Homo sapiens: one gene and its partner. The protein of the gene in region 2 interacts with the protein of the main gene of each other region in a pairwise test. Each region holds a gene or a part of one and is shown on either strand. Other genes may lie near its edges. The genes, in order: YWHAB and SSH1.

Evidence for each region.
Region 1: the proteins of SSH1 (region 2) and YWHAB interact in binary tests that used the Homo sapiens proteins (3 or more experiments, as listed by UniProt).

The regions. Positions count from the first base shown.
Region 1 is NC_000020.11:44,895,608-44,899,427, reverse strand, and holds part of YWHAB (14-3-3 protein beta/alpha), read right to left. Parts: intron 1-3,820. UniProt on the Homo sapiens protein: Adapter protein implicated in the regulation of a large spectrum of both general and specialized signaling pathways. Binds to a large number of partners, usually by recognition of a phosphoserine or phosphothreonine motif.
Region 2 is NC_000012.12:108,777,431-108,781,197, forward strand, and holds the end of SSH1 (protein phosphatase Slingshot homolog 1), read right to left. Parts: 3' UTR 761-3,767; downstream 1-760. UniProt on the Homo sapiens protein: Protein phosphatase which regulates actin filament dynamics. Dephosphorylates and activates the actin binding/depolymerizing factor cofilin, which subsequently binds to actin filaments and stimulates their disassembly.

The DNA of each region.
Region 1 (3,820 bases), on a different chromosome or scaffold from region 2:
GTTCACTGCAACCTCCACCTCCAGGGTTCAAGTGATTCTCCTGCCTTAGCCTCCCAGGTAGCTGGGATTACAGGCACGTGCCACCATGCACAGCTAACTTTTGTATTTTTAGTAGAGATGGGATTTTGCCATTTTTGGCCAGGCTGGTCTTGAACTCCTAAACTCAGGTGATCTGCCCGCCTTGGCCTCCCAAAGTGCTGGGACTTACAGGCGTGACCCACTGCACCTAGCCAATGCCAGTATTTTCAAAACAAATTCTTTCATTACTACATACATGGTATCACAATTTAAGGCTCTGAAAATGATTATTTGTTTGGAGACGGAGTCTCATTCTGTCACCCAGGCTGGAGTTCAGTGACGCAACCTCGGCTCACTGCAACCTCTGCCTCCTGGGTTCAAGCGATTCTCCTCAGCCACCCGAGTAGCTGGGACTGCTGGCATGCACCACCACACTCGGCTGATTTTGTATTTTTAGTAGAGGTGGGGTTTCACTACATTGCTCAGGCTGGTCTTGAACGCCTGACCTCAGGTGATCTGCCTGCCTCGGCCTCCCAAAGTGCTGGAATTACAGGTGTGAGCCACCGCACTTGGCCTCTTTGCTATTTTTAAATTAACCATTTTCTGCTGGGCGCAGTGGCTCATGCCTGTAATCCCAGCACTTTGGGAGGCCGAGGCAGGTGAATCACGAGGTCAGGAGATCGAGACCATCCTGGCTAACACGGTGAAACCCCGTCTCTACTAAAAAAACAAAAAATTAGCTGGGCACAGTGCACGTGCCTATAGTCCCAGCTACTGGGGAGGCTGAGCAAGAGAATCGCTTGAACCCGGAAGACGGAGGTTGCAGTGAGCAGAGATCGCGCCACTGCACTCTGGCCTGGGCAACAGAGCAAGATTCCATCTCAAAAAAAAAAGGAAAAAAAAAACAAGAAAGTATGACCTCCACTCACAAAATGATTTTGCCTCAAAAGTCATTTCTGTATTTTCAAGAGAGAAATTCTACACACAGGGCCTTATCACCTAAAAATGTTTTAGGGAGCACAATAAGATACACTCAAAATCTAGGTGATTCAGAAAGAATTGATTCTCCAGTTCATAACTATAATTTTTCTTCCTACTGCTTATTATCTAAATCACATGCAGAGCTGTGTCTTATATAAGGCTCACTAATTGTAAGCTTACACTCAGTGAGGCAAGTCTCACTTTGATCCATCTGACATCTTCACTCACAACACTAGAATAAAACTAAGGCAGAGAGAGTAATCCTCAAGAAACATTCCATTTGTTCCCTTCTATTTCCCAGAACCCCCACAGCAGTCAGAAGAGGCCACATGGTAGTTCTGTCCAATGAAAGATAAGTAGAAATGACGCTACTTCCAGGCTAACACTGTGAATATCCTACGTGTGCCTCCCCAGGCTCTTTTCCCTCACAGCAGCCACTGAGAAGGCCATGTATTCTAGGTGGTACAGTCATGCAACTGTAGAGTTTTTGTCAGCCTGAGTCCCCGGGTGACTGTATAGTGCAAGACTCCTGCAGACCTGCATTGGACACGCAGGGTGAAAACAAAAGAAACTTTTGCTGGGTTAAAACATTGAGATGCTGGAGCTGTTGGTTACCACAAGACAACCTGTTCTACTCTAATACAAGTACATCAAAAATACTCTACCATCTTAAAAGTATATATAGTTGGCCCTCCATATCTGCAGGTTCCAGATACACAGATTCAACCAACCGTGGTGGAAAATAAAGAAGGAAAAAAACACAAAATAAACAAGTATCTTCAGATTTTGGTATCCCCAGGTGTCCTGGAACCTACACCCCCTGGATACCAAAGGATGACCACTGTCTTCATATATCTAACTTTCTTGACCATAAGGTCTTTGAGATCAGGACAATAAATATCTTCATCATTAAATAACCCTACTTCATGGTTTCTAAAAGTGCCAGGTACACCAGAAAGAAGCCAACTTTCAATGACCCAACAACCTTCAGAAAATTTCCAGTCTGTAGACTAACTCAAAGTTAGAAGTCACTTAGAGGCCCACTTCAAAGTTCATAGAACAGTACCTATGCAACTCTACCTGTGGATTACTCCAAATCATAAAGTACTGGCCAAAAGCCAATTCAGAGCTAAGCCATCCCATGTGGTATCATAATGGAGTAATAAAGGATTGCCGTTGCTAAATAATGCCATCAACCTCTTCAGCTCTACTAGGCCCCAAAATTAAGCTATCCCCCTTTTACTTCTCTCCTTCTCAAGGATTAAAAGTTAAATCATACTACTCCAAAGAATCTGGACTATTCAGTGGGACCTCCCAAATATGCCTTCCCTATTTCCCAAAATAAAATGCACCCTTTCTGTTTGGGGTCAGCTATTTTAAGCTTCTCCGAGATTACTGCAAGATTTCTTAGAGATTGAGAACCATCATGGCAAGATAAGGACTGAATGCACACCTTTTTAAAATCTGTATCCATTTATCTGTTTCAAATATTTTTAATTATACACATACAGAAACAACTTACAACAAACAAAATCCATAGCTAAAGGTCCTGATGGCTACTGCTTACATAACTTTTGACTTATATAACATGGATTTTGAAGCAACTAGACCAATTTCAACAGGAAATGGGTTACACAACACCCAGCAGTTTGGAGGAAGGCAGCAAAGGAGAAATGAAATTGTTCCTATTTCTACATCTACAATAAATCTCCCATCCAAAATCTTGCCCTAGTGGCAATGCTTTCAGTCACTCATTATCTACAGCCCCCTCCATGCCTTTGCTGTAAGACCCATTTTCCTATAACTCTGCTCAAGTCACTTCCCGCTCAAAATTCTTTAAAGTTCCCTGATGCCAAAAGCAGAGTCAGATTTCCTCCCCTATCAGTGAAAGCTTGCCAACCTATCTTCCAGACCCCCACATCATGCCTTCCACATCATATGTGCTTCTGCCAAAATGGTTTTCTTACATACAAAGTATGCTTTTCTATCTTTGCTCACCAAGCCACTCCCTCTACCTGGAATGGCTTTTCCCAAATTTACTCTGCATACAAGATTCTTCACAGTGTGGCTCAGATACCATCCCTTCCATGAAGCCTTTCTTAAGCTGTTTAAGCCATAGCCATAGCTACATGTGGCTATTCACTTAAAATGTGGCTAGTGCCACATATTGAAATCATATTTTGTTCATAATGGGTTAAGTAAAAACAGATAGAATCAATTTCACTTTAAAAAAATTTTTAAATGCAGCTACCAGAAAAATTTAAATTACATGTGGCTTATATTCTATTCCTATGGGACGGCATTGCTCTAATGAATATATTCTCACAAAGCATTTCGCTGATACCTGTCAATGTCTTACCACGTTTCTTCAGTACTAAAATTACTTACATAGTGTCTCCTATTTCCCTTCCTACACCATAAGCTCCTTTGGACATATCTCCCACAGCATCCTGTACATAATTGGTAGGAACAAATATCTGCTGAATGAACAAACTGATCCTGAAATGTAAGCATAAAACTGCAGAGTTGGTAGAGTTCTCCCTTTTCTCAAATAATTCAAAGCACCTATTAGCCTCACAAGCATATTAAATCTTCATTACATTTGTACCTAGTTTCTTGAATTTCTGTGCCCTCTGAAATTCAAAGAGTAATTCACTCTTCCAGTCAGGCATGGCAGATCAATCTATAATCCCAGTGCTTTTGGAGGCCAAAGCTGGAGCATCGCTTGAGACCAGGAGTTCAAGACCAGCCTGGGCAACATAGTAAGACCTTGTCTCTACAAAAAATAAAATATTAGCCAGGTGTGGTGGCTCATGCCTGT
Region 2 (3,767 bases):
GGTTGACCTTTCAGATTCTTCTGGACTCTGAAAAACTCAGGATTCTTTGATTCACAGCAAATGCCTAGCATCGACCTGGGGTTCAGTCCCAATATGCCAGGCCCTTGCCAGTCTCAGAAGTGACTTGAGACATGGCCCCAGCCCCAGTGGAACTTGGTTTAGCCAGTCATGGGTGTCCCCAAACGTTCCAAGCTTTGGCAAATGAAGCAGGGGCTCCTTTTTAAAAAAGATCTTTATAAAAAATCAAGTCAACATGAAATTGGAATACGAAATTAATATAACTGAGGTTTTCCCTCAAATCCTATGCTTTTAAGCTAATGATTCTACAGTCCTAGAACCTTTTTTTTTGTTTTTTTTTTTTTTTTTAAGAGACAAGTTTTACTTTGTTGACTAGGCTGGAGTACAGTGGTGCCATCAAAGCTCACTGCAGTCTCCAACTCCTGGGCTCAAGCAATCCTCCTGCCTCAGCCTCCCCTTTAGAGTAGCTACATCTATAGGCACATGCCCCCACACCCAGCTAACTTTTAAAGTTTTGTGGAGATGGGGTGTTGCTTTCTTGCCCAGGCTGGTCTTGAACTCCTGGCTTCAAGCAATCCTCCCACCTCAGCCTCTCAAAGTGAGAGGACTGCAGGCATGAGCCACTGTGCCCAGCCTGCAACTAACACTTATGGTTATCAATACTCCCTCCCTTAGTTAACTGTCTTAGGTATCATAATAGCCTTTCTTATATGTATCAAAACTCATACTGAACAACAAGTTCTCAGTTGCAAAAGGAGATTTATTGTTTGCACCTGTCTATAAGTACTTGCCCACAAGTTAAACAAACGCACGCATAAGTCCACAGGGGCTCCTTTTCATGGCATATCTCATTTACTCCCTCACTCTCTCAGCATCTGTTGAGCATCTACTGCCCTCTAAGCATTGCACACATGCATTAGGGACTATTTTCCTTGGGGAGAAGATGGTGGGGTAGAAATTGCATGAATTTGGAGTCAGGCACTCCCAGCCTCTGCCCCTTCCTGGCTGTGTGTCCCTGACCCACGTTACCTAACCTCTCTGAGCATCCACTGCTTCCTCTGTAAAACAGAATCATATCTGCGGTGAGGATTAACTTGGTAATACATGTGAAACCCTTGCAACTAGGAATATATCCTCCAATTCCAACAATAACAACCACCATTTATTTATTAGGTAGTGTGCCAGGCAGAAGGGGATTTGCATGCATTATCAGTGAATTCACCAATGACCCCATGAAGTAGGTAGCATTGTCAGTTTGTTCTGATCCAATTTCAAGAGCAAGAGGGAGGTCTACCACCACCACCACCACCACCACCACAATGTACCATTTGTGGGATAATTTGTCTTTTTAAAATCTTTTATTTTTATTTGTTTTTGAGACACGGTCTTGCTCTGTTGCATAAGCTGGAGTGCAGTGGTTCGATCTCGGCTCACTGCAACCTCTGCCTCCCAGGCTCAGGAGATCCTTCACCTCAGCCACTCAAGTAGCTGGGACCACTGGCACACCACCATGCCTGGCTAATTTTTGTATTATTGGTAGAGATGGGGGTTCACCATGTTACCTGGGCTGGTCTTGAACTCCTGGGCTCAAGCAATCTGCCTGCCTCGGCCTCTCAAGGTGTTGGGATAACAGGCGTCAAGCCACCGTGCCCAAATTTGTCTTTTAGAGTCGGATGCTGGAGCATCCTCTCCTAGGCTGGGAGGTTGCTAATGTAAATGCCACACTGTATTTGCTGAAGTGGTTTACAAAAAAAAGGAATTTCAGGTTGAAAATGGACTCTTAACAAGGTACTTCAGGATGCACAATTTCCATTTAAAGGCAAAATATGGTGAATATGATCTACGGGAAAGAAACACACCTTGTGTCACCCCAATAGCCTTTGGAGCAAGAAGTGGGTCCAATTTCCCAGGGGCTGGGGGCTTCATCTCCAACTCATCTGCTTCCTTGCTGAAACCACAAGGGAGATCAAGATGCATCTTTGTCTGGCTTCTTTCTACTTCTGGGGTGGGAGAGACAGCTCTGGGAAGGGTTTCAGATGATGAGGGAGCAGTTCCTATCTGGCTTCATCAATTTTTAGATGTACCTGTAGGCAAATTACTTCCACTCTGTGGGCCTGTTTTTTCATAAACTGAGAATAATGCCAACAAGGCAGTTAATAGAAGGATCCCAAGGTAGTCCAAAGAGTTCAAGAAAGTTAGAAAAAGGACTCTCCTCTACCTTTTTTTTTCTTTTTTTTGTTTTTTGAGACAGAGTCTCACTCTGTCACCCAGGCTGGAGTGCAGTGGTGCAATCTTGGCTCACAGCAACCTCCACCTCCTGGGTTCAAGCGATTCTCCTGCCTCAGCCTCCCGAGTAGCTGGGATTACAGGCGCCCGCCATCATGCCCGGCTAATTTTTGTATTTTTAGTTGAGACGGCGTTTCACCATGTGAGCCAGGCTGGTCTTGAGCTTCTGACCTCAAGTGATCCACCTGCCTTGGCTTCCCAAAGTGCTGGGATTACAGGCGTGAGCCACCGTGCCCAACCCTCTCACCTCTTTTGAGATATGCATCACAGACCACAATGCCCAGTTTGGAGAATTCCAGGGGATTCTTTATGTAAAGCACATAGAAGGTATGTGATAAACATAACCTGGTTTTAGGAGGCAAGGATGCGTGGGTGGGTGGTGTTTCCTGGGTGGAGCTCTCCTTTAGAAAGGGCTTCTTTACCATAAAGTGAATCCCCCTAAGTTCCAAGCCGTCCTCTGTGCTGCCTTTGGAGCCTCTCCCGAACATCTTGCCAAGAGGGGGTTCCCCAGGCATAAACACAAACAAGCATGCGGATCCTCCCCAGCAAAACCACCTCCACTGTAGATGTGATCTGGGATCGTGCCCAACCGCGAGACAGTTACTCTGAGGAGGAAATCAGGGCAAAAGCAGCCCATTACAGGAATATTGTCCTAGGGCCTTGAACAAATAAGTATCGGATGAGTTTTATGAACACACATTGTTAGGGTAGTGTGGGTGTTGTCTCCAAAAAGCATGTGTGCAATGTAATTAGCAAAGCGTGAGCCTACTCAGTTGCATCATATTCTTATTTTGATGGTTTCTAAACTTGGCCATCAGAATTCCCAGGGAATCTCAGAAACATACAGATTGCTGGGGCCCATCCCACCCCATTCATGGCTGGAACCCAAAGAGAATTTGTTAGCTATCTTCAACCTTGCCAGAGAACAGTGTCTTGAACCATGACCCTCAGTGATTTGTTTTTAAAACATTTTACAGAGAGGGCTGCATTATAGCTTGATAACACTATTAGAAGCATCCTGTGGCTTGGCGCGGTGGCTCATGCCTATAATCCCAGCACTTTGGGAGGCCAAGGCGGGTGGATTACCTGAGGTTGGGAGTTTGAGAACAGCCTGACCAACATGGAGAAACCCCATTTCGATTAAAAATACAAAATTAGCCAGGCGTGGTGGCACATGCCTGTATTCCCAGCTACTCGGGAGGCTGAGGCAGGAAAATCACTTGAACCCAGGAGGCAGAGGTTGCGGTGAGCTGAGATCACACCATTGCACTCCAGTCTGGGCAACAAGAGCTAAACTCCATCTCAAAAGAAAAAAAAAAAAGAAGCATCCCACTAAACTTTTAATATTCAATAAGCAATTCTTAACCAAAATTTGGCACCCCATAGAGATTTACCTAGAAGGGGCTGGGCACAGTGGCTCATGCCTATAATCTCAACACTTTGGGAGGCTGAGGCAGGAGGAT